7 linked regions of the Homo sapiens genome follow. The protein of the gene in region 3 interacts with the protein of the main gene of each other region in a biochemical or structural test. Each region holds a gene or a part of one and is shown on either strand. Other genes may lie near its edges. The genes, in order: MAP2K2, SLCO1C1, SIPA1L1, DGKZ, RASSF6, SLC15A5 and DGKK.

Region 1 (3,500 bases), on a different chromosome or scaffold from region 3:
GGCTTTCATTCACATGGGTGGGAGGAGCCGGGGGAGAAATCCTGGGACTCAGGGGTGCCCGGGTTGCCGCTCTCTGGCCACTTCTGCCCAGCTAGGCTTGGAGAGAAAGGCCGAAGGCAGTTCTAGAAAACCCAACACGCTTTGAGACCTCTAAAGCATACACGTGACTCCATCCACCAGCTCCAGGCTGAAGACGCAGACACACAGGGTGAGAGGGCAGGTATGGCCAGGGCTCAGACAGCCCAGGAGGAGGTGCCAGGACGGGAGCTCCAGTGAGCCAGGGCCAGGTGGAAGCTGCTTCTATTCTCAGTTTTTATCAATCTACCTTAAAAGAATTACTTAAAATGAGGCCGGACATGGGCTGGGAGCGGTGACTCACGCCTGTAATGCCAGGACTTTGGGAGGCTGAGGCAGGCGGATCACTTGAGGTCAGGAGTTTGAGACCAGCCTGGCCAATATGGTAAAACCCCATCTCCACTAAAAATAAAAAAAATTAGCTGGGCGTGGTGGTGGATGCCTGTAATCTCAGCTACTCGGGAGGCTGAGGCAGGAAGATCACTTGAACCTGGGAGGCAGAGGTTGCTGTGAGTCGAGATCGTGCCACTTCTCTCTCGCCTGGGCGAGAGAGCAAGACTCCTCAATTAAAAAAAAAAAAAAAAAAAGCCGCACGTGGTGGCGCACACCTATAATCCTACCACTTTGGGAGGCCAAAGCAAAAAGAATGCTTGAGCTGAGGAGTTTGAGACCATCCCGAGCCACACAGTGAGACCCCATACCAAAATCAGCCGGGCGTGGTGGTGCACGCCTGTAGTCCCAGCTACTCAGAAGGCTGAGGTGGGAGGATCCCTTGAACCTGGGAGGTCAAGGTTGCAGTGAGCCGAGATCACACCACTGCACTCCAGCCTGGGTGACAGAGCAAGACCCTGTCTCAAAAAAACAAAAACCAGAAAGAGACCAACGACTCGAAAGAGGCAGGGTGGCGAAAACCAAACAGACGCACCAAACGCAACCCTAAAACCCCTGCTCCCCAGCACAGCTCCTTCCGTCTTCGTTTCTCCTGGGGCCGCAATCAATGTTTGTTTAGTGAGAAAATTCAAAGAGCCTCTCCCCGGAGATGAGGGCGGGCGGAGCGCTGTGCTGCAGCCTCAGGAGCTGGTGGAAGACGCCTCACAGGAGCATCGCTCTCTCTGCAGCCGCCTTTCTCCACTGTGACATCGGGGCCAGGTCACTCTCTGGGGTGGGGCCGACCTGGGCACTGCAGGGCGCTGAGTAGCGTCCCTGGCCTCCATCCACTCCACGCCAGGAGCATCCCCCAGTTGTGACAACCACACACATCCCCAGACAGTGCCAGGTGTCTCCTGGGAGGGAGAACTGCCCCTGGTTGAGAAGGGCTGATCTCCAGCTATAAAGACCAAAGTCTGGCAGGGTAAGCAATTTGTCTGAGTCACAGAGACAGGATGTGGTGCAGGGGGTATTGCAGCTGTGTACTGCTGACCCCAAATCTCACTCTGTGCATGACCATACACGTCTACCGTGTGTGTGTGTGTGTGTGTGTGTGTGTGTGTGTGTGTGTGTGTGTGTGATGTTTAAAATGGTCTTGTAACTGTAATTTTGTTACGTAGGTAGTAGGTGAACACATTTTTCTTTCTTTTTTTTTTTTTCCTGAGGCGGAGTCTCGCTCTGTTGCCCAGGCGGGGGTGCAGTGGCACCATCTCGGCTCACTGCAAGCTCCGCCTCCCGGGTTCACGCCATTCTCCTGCCTCAGCCTCCTGAGTAGCTGGGACTACAGGTGCCCGCCACCACACTCGGCTAATTTTTTGTATTTTTAGTAGAGATGGGGTTTCACTACTGGTGTTAGCCAGGATGGTCTCGATCTCCTGACCTCGTGATCCGCCCGCCTCGGCCTCCCAAAGTGCTGGGATTACAGGCTTGAGCCACCGCACCCGGCAAACACATTTTTCTTATAAAAAATTCAAATGAGGATAAATAACCTGGACGCCGCATCACTTCCACCATTCCCCCCTCAAGTGTGACTTATATTGTTCCAGATCTTTCTTCATCTCTCTCTTTCTTTCTTTCAGGCAGGGGTCGCCCAGACTGCAGCATAGTGCTGTGATCTTGGCTCACTGCAGCCTCCACCTCCTTGGTTCAGGCAGTCCTCCCACCTCAGCTTCCCAAGTAGCTGGGAGTACAGGCGCGCCACCATGTCCTGCTAATTTTTTGTAGAGACGGGGGTTCCTCATGTTGCCCAGGCTGCTCTCGAAGTCCTGGCTGAAGAGGTCCTCCCACTTCAGCCTCCCAAAGTGCTGGGATCACAGGAGTGAGCACCTGGCCCCCGCATCTTGCTGTGTATTTGGAAACACAGACTCGGGACTCACTCTCTTGCCCAGGCTGTAGAGCAGTGGCTCAATCATAGCTCACTGCAGCCTCGACCTACTGGGCTCATGGGATTCTCCCAAAGCACTGGGATTAAAGCATGCTTGCCCAGCCAGAGTTTAAAACAACATCGAAATGGGCTCATGTCTGTAATCCCAGCACTTTGGGAGGCCGAGGCAGGAGGGTCACTTGTGGCCAGGAGTTCAAGACCAGTCTGGGCAATATGGAGAGACCCTATCTCTACACAAATAAGCAAATAAATTAGCTGTGCATGGTGGCTCACGCCTGTGGTCTCAACTACTCGGGAGGCTGACGTGGGAGGACAGCACCAGTACACTCCAGGCTGGACAACTGAGCAAGACCCTGACTTGAAAATACAATAAACAAATGAATGGGCCAATGCTATGTTTATTTTATTTTTCTTTTATTTTGAAATGGAGTCTTGCTGTCGCCAGGCTGGAGTGCAGTGGCATGATCTCGGCTCACTGCAACCTCCGCCTCCCGGGTGCATGTGATTCTCCTGCCTCAGCCTCCTGAGGAGCTGGGACTACAGGCGTGCGCCACCATGCCCAGCTAATTTTGTATTTTTAGTATAGATGGGGTTTCACCATGTTGGCCAGGATGGTCTTGAACTCTTGACCTCGTGATCCGCCTGCCTTGGCCTCCCAAAGTGCTAGGATTACAAACGTGAGCCACTGCACCCAGCCCATGCTATGTTTATTTTCTACAACCACCCCTCCACTACATGAATAGTGTTGTACTGTGGGGATACTCCCATTCAGTACACCATTGTGGATTTCACTTTGCCACTGCAAAGCAGCCAAATATCATTCTTTAATCACTCCCTTACTGATGGACATGTCCAGTTTCCATTACAGTAGAACAAGACGGGCATTCTTCAGCAGATAGGACGAGACCCCCAGAAAGGCCAAGGGGCACCTCTACGAGGTCCGTAAGCCACTGGCTCTCCTTTCCCCATCCCATGAGGCCCCACTGTCCACTGGGTTCTTGCCCCGAGTTATCCAGTAATAGGTTCAGACCCCAGGGAAGCAGCCAGCCCCACTGTTCCTAAGTTCCAGTCACCAACAAGTGCTTGCCATTTTATATAAATACATCACTGGGCA
Region 2 (3,277 bases), on a different chromosome or scaffold from region 3:
GTCACAAGAATTGCTTGAACCCAGGAGGCAGAGGTTGCAGTGAGCCAAGATTGTGCCACTGCACTCCAGCTTGGGTGACAGAGGGAGACTCTGTCTCAAAAAAAAATAGAGTTCAGAATGGGGAGAGAGATGAAACAGCAATGGCAAAACATTAATAATTGTCAAAGCTATGATGGTACATGAGGGTTAATTATATCATTCTGTCTGCTTTTGTGAATTTTTGAAAATGTTCTATTATAATAATCTTAAACCACGTACAGAAAATTGCAAACATTTGAATTTTTTTGGCTTGTCTTCACATCATTAAAGGTAATGTAAAATTGGTTATCACCTGGATTTTTTAAGTGGTAAATCATATATTTGTTTGGTTTTTGAGGCACCAAATAATCCAAATTTAATTCAAAATTTTCTGCTCTTCTTGTTCTTGGGGTTTCAAGCAAAATAGAGGGGATCATTTGTTATTTAAAAATGTAAACATATACAAAGATAGCAAGAACTGTCTTTGTATACAGCAAAGATAGCAATGAACTCCCATTTATCAATTACCCAATTTCAACAATTATCAATACACAGCTCATCTTAGGACATCTGTGTCCCTAACTACTTACCCAACTAGCTTATTTTGAAGTAAGTCTCAGACTACTGTATTTCTTCTATAACATGTTTGGTGTGCTCTTCTAATCAAAACCATAATGACTTGTTTTAATCTGGTGATTCTTGCATCTTAAAAAATAACTTCTTAATATTAGCAAATACCCAATTACTGCTTAAATTCTTTAAATTATCTGATGTTTCCTTACACATGTAGGTTTGAATTAAGAACCAAACAAGGTCCACAATTGCATTAGGTGATATATCTCTAAAATCTTTTTTAATCCATAGGCTTTACTTCCCTCTTTCTCTCCCATTTGTTGCGAAAATTTCAAATCTACCAAAAAATTTAAATTACAATGAATAACTGTATAACTTTTACTGGGATTTATCAACTGTGTCCAAAAACCAGAAATCTCTCTCCTCTGTTTCTCTGAGCATACAAATATTTTGCTGAATCATTTGAAAATAAGTAGTGAACATGCTGACACCTCACTCCCAAAGCCCTCAACTTGTGTTCTTCTACTAGAGCAAATCTATATATAGACTTGTCCTATATAACCACAATACCATTCTCACACTTCAGAAATTCAACATTGATATGCTACTCTATCTAATATAATCCCTCATTCAAATTTCTTTCATTATAACAATAGTGTCTTCTATAGTGTTTTATTTTTTCTTTTGATCCAAGGTCAAAGACCACATATTGCATTTAGTTACCTTTCTTTATCTCCAAAAATTCCTCATTCTTATTTTTTTGTTCTTTTGTGACATTTATATTTTTTTCAAGAGGCAAAGCCAGTTGTTTTGTAAAATATCCCAACTATTGGATGTGTTTGTTTGCTTGTGAGTATGTCCAGGTAAAATATTGTTGGTGGCAATACTACACACGTGATTTGCATGATGCTTAGTAAATCATATCAGGAAGCACATCATTTCAGTTTATACCTCATTGGAATTTTAATTTTGGTCCCTTGGTGAAGGTGGTGTCTACCAGTTTTCTCCATTGAAAAATCCTTCTGCAGTTAATAAGTCACCTATAATTTGACACTTCGAGATTATGTCACCATTCTGTTTCCCAAAAATCTTTCACCCAAAATTTTAGCAGCCATCGATGAGTCTGGATTGAATCAATTATTTACATGAGTATTTGCAAAGTTTAGGTAAACCTTTACATAGAAAATATTTTCAAATATTTTCATTTGTTTTCAAAGAACAAATGGATAATCTCTGAAATTTAGAAGTGTCATAAATATTCTTAGATGACTTTAAAAATTTAGTGAGATTATTTTGTTCAATATAAGCATACAAAGCAATTTTATAACAGAAGAAAACATATACAAAAAAGGTTAAAACTCAAATGCCGGAAACAACCAGACAGTTGATGGAAACGAGTGATGTAGGCAGAGAGAAAGCTGTATGGACTTGTGGTGGACTCCAAGTGTAGGCAGCGGTTGGGGGAGTGAGGCAGCTGCTGCTTAACTCCAGCCAACTATGACCATGGACTGCCAGACAACATGGTTCTTAAGAGAACTCAGAAGTGTGCAAGTTTATATGAAATCTCCTAGGTTTCAGCTATTGGCTACTAACTAAAAAACAAAATCCCAAAGTCTACACAGACTAAATAACCAATGTTAATGAACCACCAATTTAGAACATATAAAATATACACTGAGCTATGAACAACTGCTTAAGATACTTTCGTTAATATTTGCACATGAGAGACACATTTTCTCCCTAAGGAGGGATTAAATTCCTAACATTTTCTGAGAACCTACTAGGGTTTCTGGCATGAATAAGGAGGACATGTTTCCTACCGTGGTGAGCTTACAGTCTAGCAGAGAAGGCAATTCAACAAGCTATTACAGGAGTATTTAAAGTTTGATGAGATGTAAAACAATGAGAATTAATGCAGTTTAGTTTATCAAAATGAACTGAAGGAAAACGTTCAAACTTGGATTTTAAAAGTGAGTGTGTATTAAGAATGTGAATAAGAGAAAATCATTGCTTGGGATAAAGGAAACTACACAAGGCATTCAGACAAGAGGAGAGAACATTTTAGTCACTGAAAGAAATCCAAGAAAATTTGAGTCTGAAATGTAAGACAACAATCTTGCCCAAAGTGAGGCCACAAAAGTAGAAAGACCCAATGTTCAGTTAACTACTCTTCTTTTGGAACAGATGTCTTGGGAAGTCACCTACTTAATTCAGTGATGCAACCTCTGTATGATGTACAGATTTGAGAAGGTTAATGAATGAAGCCAAGGAATCATGAATTGGCTGTTGCTTTAAGTTAGGGTAGAAGGAGTGGCAGTGGGAATGGAAAGAAGAGAAAGTGTTTAAGATATACCTAATAGATAGACTCAGTATGATTCCGGGACAGATTAAATATAGTGATAGCCAGAGAGAGGAGAAAGAAGGATCAATGATAACTCACAAGTCTGCTTTAATGACTGGGCTTCCACTGATAAAGGGACAGGTCTATAGGGGAAGAAGTTGAGCTCATGTTGAGTTTGAAGTGCCTGAGTGACATGCTTCTGGAGATAAATAAATGGCAGTTACTGCATGATTCTGGAGCTTATGAGAAAAGACTGGATTAGAGAGATAGGTTTGGGAGATTTCAGCATGTAATTGATGGCCTTTCATCTCCAAAACAGTAATTAGATTAAAGTAAGTGGTTTCA
Region 3 (2,617 bases):
AACGTATAAGCCCTCCGAACCATGTAGGAATCATGGTCTAAACAGACCTTTTTAGCTTGTTAATTGGAATATTTTGTGGCATCCATTCTTATGCTAGTCCAAGAACTCTGGAATCTGTAGAACTGTTGAACCAAATAAAAGGAAGAAACTCTACTGTCAGCACTCAATTAGCTGCGCCGCTGGAGAGGAACAGTGACGTGGTAGATTAAAAAAAAATTGGTTCGGTTTGACTTTGGAATGCACTGATTTTTTTTTCAGTAGATTAACTTTTCTAATTATATTTTGCACAGCCTAATATTAACAGGCATTTGTATTCCCTGGGCACACAACATCTGACATTGAGAGCTGGGAGATGCAGCCCAAAAATGTGCTGGTCTCAGAGAATAACAATGTTATGAAAAATCCATGCGTGGATAATGAAGGGGAAGCTAATTATGAAGTGCTCTGCAAATATTAAATCATAAGCAGAGAAGGCAAAATAGTAATTCTCTATCGACATGTGGACAGAGTAAAAAAGTTTATTAACATTCTGAGAAGGACAGAAATTTTCAAGAATCATCATTAGTGTTAACAAAGCTTGATGAAAAAATTCGGATGCAAGGAGGGTCAATGAGTTATTGGGTGGTCTTTCAAATAAGCAAACCTCAAGCAATAATACCAAAGTGTTTTAAAAGAGCGTTTAAAATGAATTTTATTCTTTGAATTTTACAGGTAGTCTTTAGAGGCTTCAAACAAGAACTCTGTTGCAAAACTCTAATAAATAGCTTGCCCCAAGTCCCCAAACAAAATGTAAAACAAAATGAGAACTAAACTCAGAAGGATAAGCAAGACTTCAGAATGCTTGGATGTTAGCAATATTTCTCATTTACAAAGAGATATCAGGCAATGTACAATCTCCTTCATACAAGTCAAAGAGAGAAAGAGACAGACAATTGAAATCTTCACAAAGCACTCCGAAATCTTCCTATTTCCATGATAGAAATGTCACCAGAAAAAAAAAATTCCATGGAGAAATCACAATCAAGAATGAAACTGTAGCATAAAAATCTGGTAGTGAATGTAGCAGGGAGAAGAGAGGAAAATCCATCCTGTTTCTTTCAGGGATGGAGAGAGGAAGGAATTGAGATTACTTGGGTGAGGGAACTTCCAATCAGATGCCGCTAGAGTGCTGAATGTTCCCTTAGACCAGAGTTGCCACTGAAAGGGCAGAGGGGTCGGTTTAGTGACAGTTATGAAGGCAACAAACAAAGGGGTCTCCTCAGGTCAGTCAACACTGGCCAGCCCCATGTCTCTGTGCTCTACAGCAGCCTTGGAAGAGTGACCCAGGGGCCCAAAGCAGCCTGCATCACAAGACAGCAAAAATAGCACATCAATAATTTCTGCAGCGGAATCCTTTGGATGGCCATGAAAGGATGCAGAAAATGCCGTGCTGAAATTTCACACTGGGACATGCAGGTTTCAAAAGCCCATTCTAGTATCACAGTCATTATTCCTAACAAGCAATGATTAAAATTCACAATTAAACATTCACTGTTAGCTTCTCCTAGTTACAAATACTGGTGAAGTCTTGCTCTGGAGAGAAAGATTAATTTAGAGATATGGTCATTTTCAGCAAGCTAAAAAAACCAGTTGTGCCACATTTTTATCTTTAAAAATCTTTAAAACGTATACTTTTGACCAAAATGCATTCAAAATGCAGACAGATAAGGTTTTAGTTTGGGGGAATTCTGAAATCAATTAATGTTTGGAGCCAGGAAGCTGTAAGAGAGATTGATTCCAATTTAGTGGGGCTCAATTAAGCCAAACAAAAAAGAGTCTTGCAGCACAAGTGGGACCATCTTCCTGGGGAAAGGGAGAAGCAGGAAATGACCTCACAATGCAGGACTGAGAAGGGGTGTGGCCTGCAGGCACTGTCAGAGCTGCTCTGGTTTACAGACTTGCTGTTAAATATTTAACTCCGGTCCTGCTGATCTCTGGAGGACAGGTACAGACAGCACTAGCTCATGCACGAGTCATTCAAGGGAGGTAGGCATTTTCTCAAAGCAACTCCCTCTCCAGGCATTTTAGGGAAGAAGGTAAGGAAATATCCCTCTCTACTCCCCAAACAAGTTATAAAAACATTCTTTTTCTAGGAATAATGATATTTGTTAGAATAACAAGGGAAAGCTTGGGTTACCTGAAGTTGATAAGAAAGCTGATGGGAATAGAGGCGGATGGGCCAGGGGGCGCCCTGGTCCAAGGCCCAGTTTCTTCTTAAATACATAACAGATAAAGATATTGTGCAAAAAAATAAAGACATTCACATTTTAGCAGTTAAACTTTTATTTTACTGTTTAAAATTTTTATTTACTTTTTTTGTTTTTCTTTTCTACAAAAGGCAGGTGATGATTGTTGATCTGCAACTATTGTGTTGTGCACTCCCCGAAAGGGGGCAGAGTAGGAAGCCAGGGAAGGTGCTCTGAGGATGCTTTCTATGGAGGGAATAAGGGCTGCAGGACACTCACTGGAGGGAGTGTCTGGGCCCTTCTCCTGTCCTCCTCAGCCTTCCCTAGCTCATGTCTATGGTGTTGAAGACCCATTCTGTGAACTTCTTCAGCTTGTCCGAGGCGTTCTGGGA
Region 4 (3,500 bases), on a different chromosome or scaffold from region 3:
TTTACAGAGAGAGGCGGGGGCGGTTGTGAAAGGGGGCAAGCTGGTTCTTGCTCCCCAACCCACACGGACACCCCACTGACACAGCCTGCCACCACCCACCCACCTCTGGAAGGCATCCCCTTGGGGGAGACCTTCCTTCCATCCTGAGGGCCCTGAAAGGGTGAGGGACAGGCTGCCAAAACCATCCCTGGTAGACCCAGGGAGCTCTAGGGGGCTGGTCTCCCTCAAGGGGTCTTTTGTAGGACACAGGATCTCCCTCTGTCACCCAGGCTGGAGTGCAGTGGCACAATCATAGCTCACTGTAATTTCAAACCCCTAGGCTCAAGCAATCCTTCCACCTCAGCCTCCCGAGTAGCTAGGACTATAGGTGGGGGCCCCCATACCGGGCTCATTTTTTCTTTCTTTCTTTCTTTTGTAGAGACGAGGTCCTGCTATGTTGCCCAGGTTGGTCTCGAACTCCTGGCCTTAAGTGATCCTCCCACCTTGGCCTCCTGAGTTGCTGAGATTACAGGCCTGAGCCACTGTGCCCAGCCTCTGGAGTCTTTTTAAGAAATGATTTTGAAATCTTTCTAAACACATTAAATATCTTGGCGTTAGAAAAGTGTGCAGAATAAGGTGACACCTACTGCCTAGCTTGGTTGGAGCTTAGCATTAGGCCATATTTGCTTTAGATAGAGATGGAGGCCCCTGTGTCTTACTCCCTGGAGGAAACCACAATTCTGATTTTGGTGTGTGTGATGTTCTTGTGCCTGTTTTTAAAATTGTCCTACATAGGTATTCATGCCTAGCAACATACAGTGCTGTTTCGTATGATTTTACTCTGGTTTAAATGGTATACCAGGCATATTCTGCATTTAGGTTTTTCCCTCAATATTGTTTTGGAGATTTAACCATCCTAAACATGAATTCTCACGGATCCATTTTAACCTCCACGTCCGATTCCATTGTGTAACAGCAGCTTATTTGCCCAGGCTCTGTTGACGGACACTTGGGTGGTGTGCAGTTTTTCGCTATTGCAAGCGATCCCTCTGTGTTCTCTCCACCAGTGCTTGCTCACAGGGTCTGTGTATTTTCAGCTTAGACAGATGTTGCCAAATTGTGCTCCGAAGTAGTTGTCCTAATTTTTAGGCCTCTGTGTTTATTTTTTTATTTTATTTTATTTTTTTGAGACAGAGTCTCACTCTCGCCCAGGCTAGAGTGCAGTGGTGCGATCTCGGCTCACTGCCAGCTCTGCCTCCCGGGTTCAGGCCATTCTCCTGCCTCAGCCTCCCAAGTAGCTGGGACTACAGGCGCCCGCCACCACGCCCGGCTAATTTTTTGTATTTTTAGTAGAGACGGGGTTTCGCCATGTTAGCCAGGATGGTCTCGATCTCCCGACCTCGTGATCCGCCCGCCTCAGCCTCCCAAAGTGCTGGGATTACAGGCATGAGCCACCGCGCCCGGCTATTTTCTTTCTTAAAACTTTCAGTAAACTGGGGAATTGTTTCCCAGGAACAAACACTTTCTCCTTCAAGCCTGCAACACTCCCTTGAGAGAGACGAGGGTGGGCATTAGCCCTATTTATCAGATCAGGAAACTGAGGCTGAGGCAGGTTAAAAGGCTTAGCTTGAGGTCATGTAGCTGGTCAGAGGCAGATCCTCTGGGCCTTTGAAGCTAAACCTACTGTGAAGGCCTTTGTCCCCTGTGTGAGTAGTGTGGAAGCCTGGAGAGTGGGGTGGGGCCCTGGGGGCTGATGGGGGAGGGAGCAACATGGTCAGAAAGTTGAGGGGGGAGGTGTTAAATTTTTTTTTTTTCTTTTTTTGAGATGGAGTTTTGCTCTTGTTGCCCAGGTTGGAGCGCAATGGCGCGGTCTCGGCTCACCGCAACCCCTGCCTCTGAGGTTCAAGCGATTCACCTGCCTCAGCCTCCCAAGTAGCTGGGATTACAGGCATGGGCCACCACACCCGGCTAATTTTGTATTTTTAGTAGAGATGGAGTTTCTCCATGTTGGTCAAGCTGGTCTCGAGCTCCTGACCTCAGGTGATCTGCCCGCCTCAGCCTCCCAAAGTGCTGGGATTACAGGCATGAGCCACCCGCCCGGCCAGGGTGTTAATATTGAATGAGGGGTGAGGGGGAAATGCTTCTCCCAGCAGATGGGGAATGGGAGCCCTCTGCAGACACAGGAGAAGACAAGGATGGGACGGTCACCAGAGAAGAGTGGGGGCCCGCGAGGGGTTTATAACAAAGGGGCCCCTTTGGGAGGCTAAGGGAGATATATTGGCATTCCCATCAGGGATCGGTTTCAGTGTTGCCTCTGAGACACCAGAGCTCAGCCCAGACCAGACTTGTCCACCCAGTGCAGCAGGAAGTTCTCGGGAGCTGGCCCACTCCTGGGGCTCTGTGCCCACCTGAAGCCTGTGCTGTCAGCGGGATCCATGAGGCTGAGTCCAGACCATGCGCTGTTCCCTCCACTCACTCTTCAAACCACACCCAGCACTTCTACACTCTGGGGATGCCATTAGAAGCAATGTGAGGCCCTGGGGCTCACAGCCTGTCCGGGGATGCAGATTTGCACATTAGTGCTGATTGCCCAGGGTCTGAGAGGAAAACCATGAGGGAGAATTCACTGAGTAGAGAGGGGAGTGGTATTCCAGGTAGGGAGACCACCGGATGCCACGTGGTGCCACGTGGAAAAGGGACCCGCGGTGTTTTGTTTGCCAGAAGCATCCAGGGTGGAGCCTGAGGGGTCGAGGGTATGTGCCATGGAACACACTACTGAGTTCAAACCCCAGCACTGCCACATGTTAGCTGGACGACTTCAGGCAAATGACTTAACCGCTTTGTCTCTCAGTTTCCTCATCTGCAATATGAGGATACGGGCCATGGGGATAAGAATACCAACTATTCTTAGGAGGATTCGTAGCTTAATATTTGTAAAAACACTTAGAGTAGTGTCTGGTGGAGTGAGTTATGTAAGTGTCAAATACAGCATTAAAAATATGAAAGAGCAGAGAGGAGGCTGGGAGGCCTGTTGCCTGCCAGCCCCAGGTCTTTGCATTTTGCTCAGCTGACAGTAGAGTCAGTAAAAGGTGATTGGGTGCTTTAGGATGAATTCTGATGGCAGCGGGAGTCTGGCTTGGAGGGAGGCACTAAAGGAATGGGTTGGTCATTTGTTGCGCAAACATCTCTTTGAGGCCTAGCAGGGGCTGAGTCAGGGACTCGGATGTGAAAGAAGAGACTGGGGGTATTTCACCAAGGAGCTCAGGCCAGCTTAGGATCCCCGCCTAGCCCCCAAGCCTCTGAGACAGCCCCTCCTCCCCTTTCCTTGCCCACCACCCTCCCCTTGTGACTTCATGTCACCAAACCGACTATCTAGTTTTCATGAGAAAGCCATGGAGAACATGGAGCGGGCGATAGCATCCAGCCCAGAAAGGGGCCTCCAGGTGTCACTCTTGGGGTCCTCTAGAGAGGAGAGGAAGGTGGCCACCCAAACCAAGGCTGTTGCCATCCCCTTGTACCCA
Region 5 (3,500 bases), on a different chromosome or scaffold from region 3:
AGAGATTATGGGATGGAGACAGATTCGATTACCTGGAAGAATGTATAGATAGAGAAGAAAGGATGGCTGAGAATGGACACTCAAACAAGCCAGTATTTAGTGATCATACAAAGGAGGAATCAGCAAAGGAGACTAGTGTTGAGGCCTGTGAGATAGCAGGAAAATAGAGTGAGGTGATTGTTATTCATGGTTTGTCTCAAAAGCATCAAGAAGAAAGTGTTTTAAAAGGTAGGAAAATCAATCTTGTCAAATGTTGCTAAGAGGCCGAGAAATGAGGAGAGAAGTGAACTCTTTGGCAAGGTATAGGCTCTTGGAACATGGATGGAGAGGTGGAGGTAGGGCTAAATTAAAGGAATATATGATAAATAATCTGGACCCAGGAGGAAGAAGGAAGTGTTTGGACCCCAGGGTCATCACTGGGGGATTTCAGTCGGGGACATTAATAACCCTTTTGGTGGGTTATTAGAATGACAAAATCCAGGGGCAAAACTCAAGTTTGAGAAGCTGGAGGAACCTGTGTAACCTGTATAACCAAGTTGCCCAGACCAAATCCTGTGAATAAGTAACTGGGATTCACTGGGCTCATGGAGCATGTTGTGTCTGTGTGCCCAAGGCAGCATAAAATGCCCATGTGGCTTCTGACGTATAGAATTACTTTGCCTGGTGACTAAGCTTCTGTGTCTCTGGTATGAGTCCTCCAGGTGTCCTGCATGAGACCTGCCAATGATGTGCTATCAGAGGATGCCATTTCCAACTAGAGAAGCACAATTCTTTGAGCAAGAAGATAGCAATAGAAAAGAAAGTAAGGTATAAATCAATAATGACAATACAAGGTAGAAAGCAGAATGATGACAACAGTGTGGATTCAAAGGACATGGGGAGACTTTAAGATTTCCCACTGGGGACTAAAAGGGACCAGATATCTGGACCTGCAGTGAGGAGGGCCCTCTGCTGCCAGGGGAAATGGGTGAGAAAAGACTCAATGACATGAAATTTCATTAGATTACAAGGCCTGGTGTTGAAGAAATGTTTCAATTTGGAGCCTGGAAAGGTAGGTTTGAGTGGAATTGAAGAAAACTTGAGAGTCAGGTTAAGGGACTTGGGCTGTATTTATTAAGAAAGATACCAAGATGGTTTGTGACCAAATAGGTGATGGGATGATCGGAATGATAAAAGCCTAAAATGAGACTCCAGCCAAGCATTCACCCTGAAAACTGTAACAAAGTACCTAGTGAGTTTAACAACATGCTATAAAGAAAAATATGCATCAGAGATTTTATGAGAATAGAAGAATAGCTTTCCTGTTTTCTTTTTTTCCTGGTACTCTGAAGAGTTAGGACATATAATTTCCTAATTTTTATTCATCTTACCCAACCCAAATAACCAGATTTGAAAGGAAAAGGAGGAAATCCACCCCCTTATACACAACGTTTTTTTTTTTAAAAAAAAAAAAAAAAGAAAACTGAACTCTCTCATCCATCTTTTTTATTCTGGCTCTATCCCCTAAAATCTTATAGACTTGGAGCCATGATAACTGAATATTCAATTTTTGCAAAATGGAATGAACAGAAAATATTATACTTTACATCTCTGGTCACACCCTAATGCCATTTATATGAACATATAAAGGAGGAGATTATTCACATCTGACCACAGTTTCCAGAGCTTGAAGGAGACTTGAAAAATATTACATCATACCTAATCAACTCTTCAAGTCAGAGCTTGATTTTAGCTGCCTAGAATTGCAGTTGTCTTCTGCTGATTGGGGCAAGGTTCAGCCAGTTTGGGTGAGTTATTGCAATAGAAGGAATATGCTCCCTTATACAGAATTATATAAATCAATAGAGTCATATTTATTTTGCTAGAAATATATCTAAAACAGACTTACCAAATTGTTCAATCCATCCGTGTCTGGAGTTACTGTTTCTGTAGTTTTTCATTTACATAATACATTTTTCTGTATTTTTGCTCACACATGACATACTACTTAAAAACTTTCTAAAACCTTCTTATACTCTAGAGACACAACAAAACACTCAACTTAAATCAGAAACTAATTTTTTAATGCATTATAGGAACAAATCATTAATATTATTCTCATGTTTAGGATATCCTCAGACCATCTCAAAAAGGAGGAAAAGATGACTATGATGGCTCACCAGTACCCCTCTTGGATCTTCATTAATGAGAAGACATTCATAACCAGGTAACCACACACCTTATATTATACATTGTCCTACTCACCAGTCATTTGTGGAATATACCGTCAAAGTTTTCTAAGCATGATGTATGGTCAACAAGATCAATAATATGAATCATCAGTAGAGATACTAGATAAGAAGTTGGAAAAGTATGTTCCTAAAGACTCTCAAATTTACTCTCATGGAACAATCACTAATATTTTGTTTAACAGTGGTTTTACTTTATTAAAAGCAACATTTCTGTTTTAATAGTTGGGATAATATTGAAGAGCAGCATTAGGTGAAAGATCTAAGGCTTCTCATAAATGATAGTTCTAAAGAATTAACCCCAGGGCCAAAAACATTATGTCCTGTCCTAACCTCTCCATCCCTTGCTCCTCATGACACTTTATTTTTACTGGTTCCCTCTTGACATTAGATTATGCAATATATGGCCAACATCCACAGCTTTTCTTGTACGCAGCAAACAGTATCTCATATTGCTTTGGGAACAATAGAGTAAGGGCTTAAAAGCTATAAGAGTAGAGATGAAAACTGAAACTGGCCAAGCTACAGCAGAGGCTGGGGGCTGAGAGGAGATGAAATCATGAAAAAATAAGTGGTACTGAAACATGACCCAAATCTTATGGGGGGTGGAAAAAGGAAAAAAGCCAAATAAATGACAGAGAGAAGGAGAAGTGAATGATGCAGGGTTGGGCAGTAGGAAAGTGAAGGAAACAAATATGATCAAATATGGAAATAAAGCCACAGCTGAAAGATAAGGATGAACTATAAGCAGTGGGAAAAAGACCTGATGCAAAGGATAAAGGATCCACTGACTTATTCCTCAAACACTTACTGATTACTCACTGTGAGCAGGTGTATTTTTGGACCCTGAGCATTCAGTAATGAACCAAACAAAACCCTTACTCTCATGGAGTTACATCATAAAGTCGGGATGCAGTCAATACATAAGATAAATGCTGAGGAAATGGAGTAAAGAGTGCTAGAGATAGAGAGCGGAAAGGGTTCTGATTGCATATAACCTAGTTCCTTCCTCAGTGAGCGGGAAGCACTGGAGGAAAAGCCTGCAGAAAGGGAGAAAGCAAGCCATGCAGCTTTCGCAGGTATTCCAGGCAAGGGGAATGGCAACTCCACAGCCCTAAGGCAGATGCATATTTGTAAGGGTCAGGGAGAACAGTGTGGGGAAATGGAAGTAGAAAGACAGCAGGAGAAGAAGCCAAATGGGCTCAGAACATGTAGGGTTTGATAGGCCATTATGAGGCTTGATCTTTCCCACTAAATAAGATGAGAAGCTGT
Region 6 (2,701 bases), on a different chromosome or scaffold from region 3:
TCTTTTGGTGTTTGCTTTGGGTCAACTTTATAATTCTGTAGATCTTTCAGCTCTAAGGACAAGTGAAACCACAATGAGCACCTTTTTCTATTATGATGTAGAAATTAAGGAGATGAAGGCAAATTTGTGGGGAGGGGGAGAACAAAATAAAGCAGGCTCCTTTTCTATCAGTAAGAGGGACTAGAGCTTCTCACTTGTACTGAGGTGAAGTGTTTAAAGATTTCTTGCTCTTGTGAGTGTTCATTAAACCCAAATTGCAAACTTGGCATTTAACCTTTTGCAGCAAGGAAAGCTTCTAAGGAATATTAGGGGTCTGCCTCACTGTTTTGCCAGGAAACAATTGCTAAACAGAAAGGATTTGAAAAAGTTGCAGGAAACGAATTTATGCCTGTACCAGCAAGTCTTTTCATTTGTCCTCAAACAAAAAATAGTTTGAGTAACAGAAACACCTGGTGCTTTACAGCTCCTCTTTTGCAATTAAAAATGCGTAGCATACCTAATCAAGTTGAGTAAATCTTTTATTCTACAGACCTAAAATATTTTATGTATACACAAGGGAGGTGCATAATTGCAGAATAATTTGCAGTCAGCTGATAAACTCACCTGTCCTATCCAACATGAATTGTCCTGGAAAGCAATGGCTTTTAAACCTTAGGGAACATGAGAATGATTTGGGTGTGCTTATTAAAACCACCAATTGCTGGACCCCAATCTCAAAAAAAGATTTGAGTTAAGGCAGTCTGTATAGGGGCCAGAAAGATTCACCTGTAGCAAGTTGTCCTCAACCAAATGTTGACAAATACTGCTACTGAGAAACAGACTTTAATTTTATTTGATTTTTTAAAAAATGAGTTTCCACATATTTTTGCTTATGAAAGAAGAAACTCTTAGAAGATAATTTTCTGAATGCATCTGAATTGGCAGTGGAGACCGAAAGATGTTATTCATATAATTCCTTTAAGCATCTCTATTTGGTTTGGTCACTTACCCTCCTCTCAGCCCCCTCATTTTATCTTCCCTAATTTCCTTCTTTCTTTTAATTCCAATAATTCCATAACTTACATTTATTTTTCAACTTTTTTAGTATGCGGACATTCTCTTTGTTAAGGACATCTATTTTAGTAATACTGCTTTTAAATTCAGAGAAAATGTCCTTAATGAAGTCATATTTTGATAGCATAATATTAACAGCAAATATAGAAAATCATGTATATGTTTATTATTTACTCAGTTATATACAGTATATGGTCACAATGTAATAAGGTCACGTGTAATAAGGGATCACTAAGTGTATTGAAAGAGAGTATATTAAAATACTGTCATTTTGCTTCTAATGACTCATTAAAACTCCAAAAAAAAGGTCATACGCTTTCAATGGCTGAACCATTGTAGAAAGCTGTAAGGTATTATTGGTGTATAGAAAACTGTCATTTTTTTTGTCATAGAGTAATCACTGAGACTTTGAAATTATTTTATTAATTCTAATGCTATAACATGTTAATGCAAAAGCATGACAGTTTACTAGAAAATTCATAATTAGTCTTTGTAAATAAAGTATACAGATGATATTTGTAAAATCACCTCTGTATATATTGGCTTTTACACTAAAACACATAAAATGCTCAACTGAAGAAGAAAACAATGAATACTGTTCTCATAAGACAGGTAGACTCAAACACAGTTTCATAGGGCTGTCTCCCAAAGATCAATACTTGAAGAAAATTCCTGTATACTGCCATAAAATTTCAGAGATTTTTCGTGGAGGAGAAGTGTTTCTTCAAGATTACTTCCACGGATGTTCTGGGCATTAAAATGATTTAGATTACAATATCTAAAAAAGAAAGAAAGAAAGCTTTTCTTAGGACCAGATGTAGATGAATTGATAAATCATTTGCTTCCCTCCTGCGCTTGTCTACCTTTTATGATGGGCTCATAGATACTGGCACAACAGTGACGATTATTTAAGAGCACTGCTCACCAAAACAGCCTTTTTAAAAGGACAAAAGGAGTTTTTGTGACTTAGTAAAGTGTCTCATAAGGACCTTTAGGTGGCGCTTTTTAACAACCTGCTACGCTGTCTTCAGTGCTGACAGAGAGATGGTGAGAAGGCTGAAAGCCTATTGACTTGACAGATTTCATGGCGGTCAGGATGCATAAGAGGTTTACTGGGAATTTGTAAATTCAGTGCTGAGATTATGTGGAAAGCACCATTGTCAAAGAAGGAGTCTATGAATATATTTCTAGAATGTGCACTCTCCATCCCCAACCTCCAGAAAAACCTGCCTTTCCAGTGTCTTCTAAGTACCAGCCCCATGCAAGGGTGGGATAGAATCATCCCATTTCACAGATTAAGAAACTGAAGTTTCCAAGAGATTAAATAACTTGCTTAAGGTTCATAGAAATAGTAGTTGGCAGAGTTTGGATTTGGAACCAGAACTTGATTATTCTGAATCCTGGCGCTTTTCCTCCATGGCATACTGCCTCTAAAGACAAATTACTTTCTTAAACACTTTCGGGTAAGTTCCAGCAAAATAGGAACTTCAAATTGCTTTATTCACTGCTTTATTCCCAGTGATTGATACATAGTAGATGTTCAATAAATATTTGTCAAATGAACAAATGAATATCGGCTATAAGTTTAATTTTATCACATACACATAAGTTTCAAAAATAGATGGGGTCAGTCATCTATTTTTGATTT
Region 7 (3,500 bases), on a different chromosome or scaffold from region 3:
CAATATTGGTCCAGACTTGGAAGAAACAGGCTATATTCAGACATCAATGCTCATAAAAAGCTATGAGCGTAGCTGGCTGGTACACACCAGCTACCCTAGTTGTGCTACTCCAGGAGATTTCAGCTGCTTGGAATCAATTTCATTTGAAACACGTGACTCTTAGAGTGCAATTTTTTTTGAAGCAGCAACTTTTCTGGCAAAGTGAAGTACTTTTCCAAACACCAGATCCATATACTAAATGCCTAATTCAATGCCATGGAACAGATCTAAGCTTGTAGGGAGATTTTAGAGGAGGAGCCAGTGGAGAAAAATAGGAGACAGGAAAGGATATCAGGTGACTTGAGGTGGAGGTGGGGAGGACAGCGTCTTGTTGACTGTGGAATCTCTGATAGAAATAGGTGGGGCACTTACGATCACTAGAAAGGCTGGATATAGTTTACTTGGAGCTTGTAAAGTAGAGCCACAGAAATGAGCCATCATCACATGGAATGAGTTTTGAAATGTCAGAAGGCTAGCACAAAATTATTGAGACACTGTTTAAACCATTCATTCTCTGGGCACTTTGGTGTTCTCATCTACAAAAATAGGAGTTTAGGTATATGAAAATGTACAATACCTAGAACAAACCAATTCTGAAAAAAAGAATCAAGTGGGGGACTTTCATCTCCCAATTTCAAAAACTACTGTAAAGCTATAGTTATCAAGATAGTGTGGTACTTGCATAGGATAGACACATAAATAAATAGAACAGAAGTGAGAGTCCAGAAATAAACCCTTGCATTTGTGGTCAATTGATTTTTGACAAAGGTGCCAACACGATTCACTGGGGAAAGGATAGCTGTTTTGAAAAATGGCTCTAGATCCGGGCGCGGTGGCTCATGCCTATAATCCTATCGCTTTGGGAAGCTGAGGCGGGCGGATTGCCTGACCTCAGGAATTCGAGACCAGCCTGGGCAAAATGGTGAAACTCCGTCTCTACTAAATTACAAAAAATTAGTCAAGCATGGTATCATGCACCAGTAGTCCCAGCTACTTGGGAGGCTGAGGCAGGAGAATTACTTGAACCCAGGAGGCAGAGGTTGCAGTGAGCCGAGATCATGCCACTGCACTCCAGCCTAGGCGACAGAACAAGACTCCGTCTCCAAGAAAATAAAAAAAATAAACAAATAAATAAATTAAAATGGTGGTGAGATAATTAGATATCCACAGGCAAAAAGATAAACTTAGACTCTTACCTTAGACCCTCACACTATACGTAAAAATTAACTCAAAGTAGATCATACACTTAAATGTATTAATAAGAGCTAAAACAATACAAACTTTAGAAGAAAACTTAGGAGCAAATTTTTAAGATCTCAGATTAGGCAAAGATTTCTTACAGATGGCACCAAAAGCATGGTCCATAAAGAAAAAAACTGATCAATTGGACCGCCTTAGAATTCAATACTTTTGTATTTCAAAGATACCACTAAGAAAATGAAAAGACCAGCAAGAGACTGGGAGAAAATATTTGCAAATCACATATCTGACAAAGTTCCTGTTTCTCAGCCCAGGCCTGCTTTGAGAAAGAGGTTCTAGTGGTGGTGGCAAGGGTGGGGTGTTGTGGGGTGGGGTGTCACACTTTTTACTTATAGCTTCAATGTACCACAAGAACTCTGAGACTGACTTAGGCCTTGTCTGAAGTATGAAAGTGCGAGAAGGTGCCATGCAGGCCAACACTGGATAGGGTAAAATTAACGGGTTCAGGGGAACCAGGTTAGGAACACCAAAAACAAATAGAGGGATGTTTGATACTTTGCAACTTTGTCAAGTGAAAACAGATCTGAAGCCACTACTGAAACCTGGTTAAACTTTCACAGACAGAACAAAGGTGGGCGATTTGCTAAATTGAGTCAACATAATCTGTTGTCAGTAACAGTAACACAGGTAGCTGTGTTTACACAGAAATCCACAGGTCTGGATTTGAAGGCAGCTCAAGTTTAGGATGCCAGTGCAGTCATCCAAAATTTGGCACACACTGTCCCGCTAGACTAGTCTTGGGGCCAATGCATTTTACTTCCAGTGGGTCCCTTTCTTTCTGTTGCTTGTCTGAGAGGTAGAGAATGTAGGAATACGTATGTGTATTGTGATAGTGTGTTTGCATGTAGGGAAGGGAGTTTCTTTTCCTTACTTGTATTGCCCTGGGTGTTCATCTCTTCTGGTGTTGAAGTCCAGAGAAATTTTAGCATCCAGTCCAATTCCGAAGTAGTTGTTCATGACACATTTTTCTTTGAAGCGTCTGAAATTATTCAAAGAAGAGGACAGACATTGGTGCAGGAAAGAAGTGCCGCTATCAATTGGGCATGAAGATGAATCTGCATGATGGAAAACCAGTGAGGGAAGGCCCCCTCCACACTGGGCACTAACTATAACATTTTTGAGAGGCACATGTAGATATCCTTTTGTGTGAACAACTAGCTTATTAGCTGTAAGAGGGAGTGCCTCGCCAGTTGGGAAGCTTCAGTGGGATTGGAACTCATAATAAAGAAGCAACATTGATGATTTTAGTCATCTTTGGAGGCCTTATGTATGAGTGGCCCATATTTTCTTCATATGTAGTATTAAGGGAAATACTGTTTACTCCTATAAAGAACTTTTGAATATCCTAGACACAAACGTGCCATGACAGTTAAGTCTGCACAACTGCTCTCAGTGATGTCCGACATCAAAGGGGAAAATGACCACACATTTGGAAGGAAAGACTGATAAAAGAGGGTAGATATGTACATAACAAAAAAGCCAAATTATTTGTCAAGTCTCCTGTGTCCATCTAGGGTGTCAGCATCAAAACCAGTGGTGTGCCATAGCCAGTTGGCACCAGCTCATGTAAACTGATTATGCATATCTCTTTCCAACTCCAGATTCAATGGCATTATATCACTAACTTAAATAGGCCATGGTGGAAGGGTTTACACCATAAATGAATCAGGGCTTTCTCCCCCAAGAGAGGAGGTTGTTAAACACTTTGCCAGTGCACTATTGATCAAAATTCATTAGGTAGATCCATGAGAGCTCAGACATAAATTTGAGCCAATGGTGAAGTGTGGGGGCAAGAATGCGGGTTGGAGACAGGAATAAAAATTGTTTTCTTAAATAAATTATTTAAGAAAACATAAATAATTTCTAGCTGTGTCCTTTTGAGAAATTAAATGGATACAGTTTAGCTGTTTAATCTTAGATTACTTTTTTATTCATTACCATACTGACCTTACATCTCTCACATGAGATTTGCCTCCCTCAACCACAGTCCAGAGATTGGAGTTTCTCTAACTAATGTCCAAACTGATCTTCTTAATGGAACTCAGAATGAGTGAGTGTGGCAGAACTTGGCTGCTGCCGATATTCTAAAGAGGGAGAACTGGTGAGACAGATGTCCTTAGATTTGCTGCCTAGTCCCCTAGTGACCATTTTAGTTTTTAGTATCTTCAACCATTTACTGTTAAGGGCAACAGTGAAAAAAA

Evidence for each region.
Region 1: the proteins of SIPA1L1 (region 3) and MAP2K2 interact in a test that uses a peptide from one of them, tested with the Homo sapiens proteins (one large-scale study listed by IntAct).
Region 2: the proteins of SIPA1L1 (region 3) and SLCO1C1 interact in a test that uses a peptide from one of them, tested with the Homo sapiens proteins (one large-scale study listed by IntAct).
Region 4: the proteins of SIPA1L1 (region 3) and DGKZ interact in a test that uses a peptide from one of them, tested with the Homo sapiens proteins (one large-scale study listed by IntAct).
Region 5: the proteins of SIPA1L1 (region 3) and RASSF6 interact in a test that uses a peptide from one of them, tested with the Homo sapiens proteins (one large-scale study listed by IntAct).
Region 6: the proteins of SIPA1L1 (region 3) and SLC15A5 interact in a test that uses a peptide from one of them, tested with the Homo sapiens proteins (one large-scale study listed by IntAct).
Region 7: the proteins of SIPA1L1 (region 3) and DGKK interact in a test that uses a peptide from one of them, tested with the Homo sapiens proteins (one large-scale study listed by IntAct).

What each region holds. Positions count from the first base shown.
Region 1 is NC_000019.10:4,103,623-4,107,122, forward strand, and holds part of MAP2K2 (dual specificity mitogen-activated protein kinase kinase 2), read right to left. Parts: intron 1-3,500. UniProt on the Homo sapiens protein: Catalyzes the concomitant phosphorylation of a threonine and a tyrosine residue in a Thr-Glu-Tyr sequence located in MAP kinases. Activates the ERK1 and ERK2 MAP kinases.
Region 2 is NC_000012.12:20,747,332-20,750,608, forward strand, and holds part of SLCO1C1 (solute carrier organic anion transporter family member 1C1), read left to right. Parts: intron 1-3,277. UniProt on the Homo sapiens protein: Mediates the Na(+)-independent high affinity transport of organic anions such as the thyroid hormones L-thyroxine (T4), L-thyroxine sulfate (T4S), and 3,3',5'-triiodo-L-thyronine (reverse T3, rT3) at the plasma membrane.
Region 3 is NC_000014.9:71,739,093-71,741,709, reverse strand, and holds the end of SIPA1L1 (signal-induced proliferation-associated 1-like protein 1), read right to left. Parts: coding exon 2,549-2,617; 3' UTR 501-2,548; downstream 1-500.
Region 4 is NC_000011.10:46,353,963-46,357,462, forward strand, and holds part of DGKZ (diacylglycerol kinase zeta), read left to right. Parts: intron 1-3,500. UniProt on the Homo sapiens protein: Diacylglycerol kinase that converts diacylglycerol/DAG into phosphatidic acid/phosphatidate/PA and regulates the respective levels of these two bioactive lipids.
Region 5 is NC_000004.12:73,610,437-73,613,936, reverse strand, and holds part of RASSF6 (ras association domain-containing protein 6), read left to right. Parts: intron 1-693; exon of another isoform or gene 694-807; intron 808-2,107; coding exon of another isoform or gene 2,108-2,141; coding exon 2,142-2,206; intron 2,207-2,260; exon of another isoform or gene 2,261-3,500.
Region 6 is NC_000012.12:16,187,985-16,190,685, forward strand, and holds the end of SLC15A5 (solute carrier family 15 member 5), read right to left. Parts: intron 1,832-2,701; coding exon 1,684-1,831; 3' UTR 501-1,683; downstream 1-500. UniProt on the Homo sapiens protein: Proton oligopeptide cotransporter.
Region 7 is NC_000023.11:50,380,326-50,383,825, forward strand, and holds part of DGKK (diacylglycerol kinase kappa), read right to left. Parts: intron 2,279-3,500; coding exon 2,171-2,278; intron 1-2,170. UniProt on the Homo sapiens protein: Diacylglycerol kinase that converts diacylglycerol/DAG into phosphatidic acid/phosphatidate/PA and regulates the respective levels of these two bioactive lipids.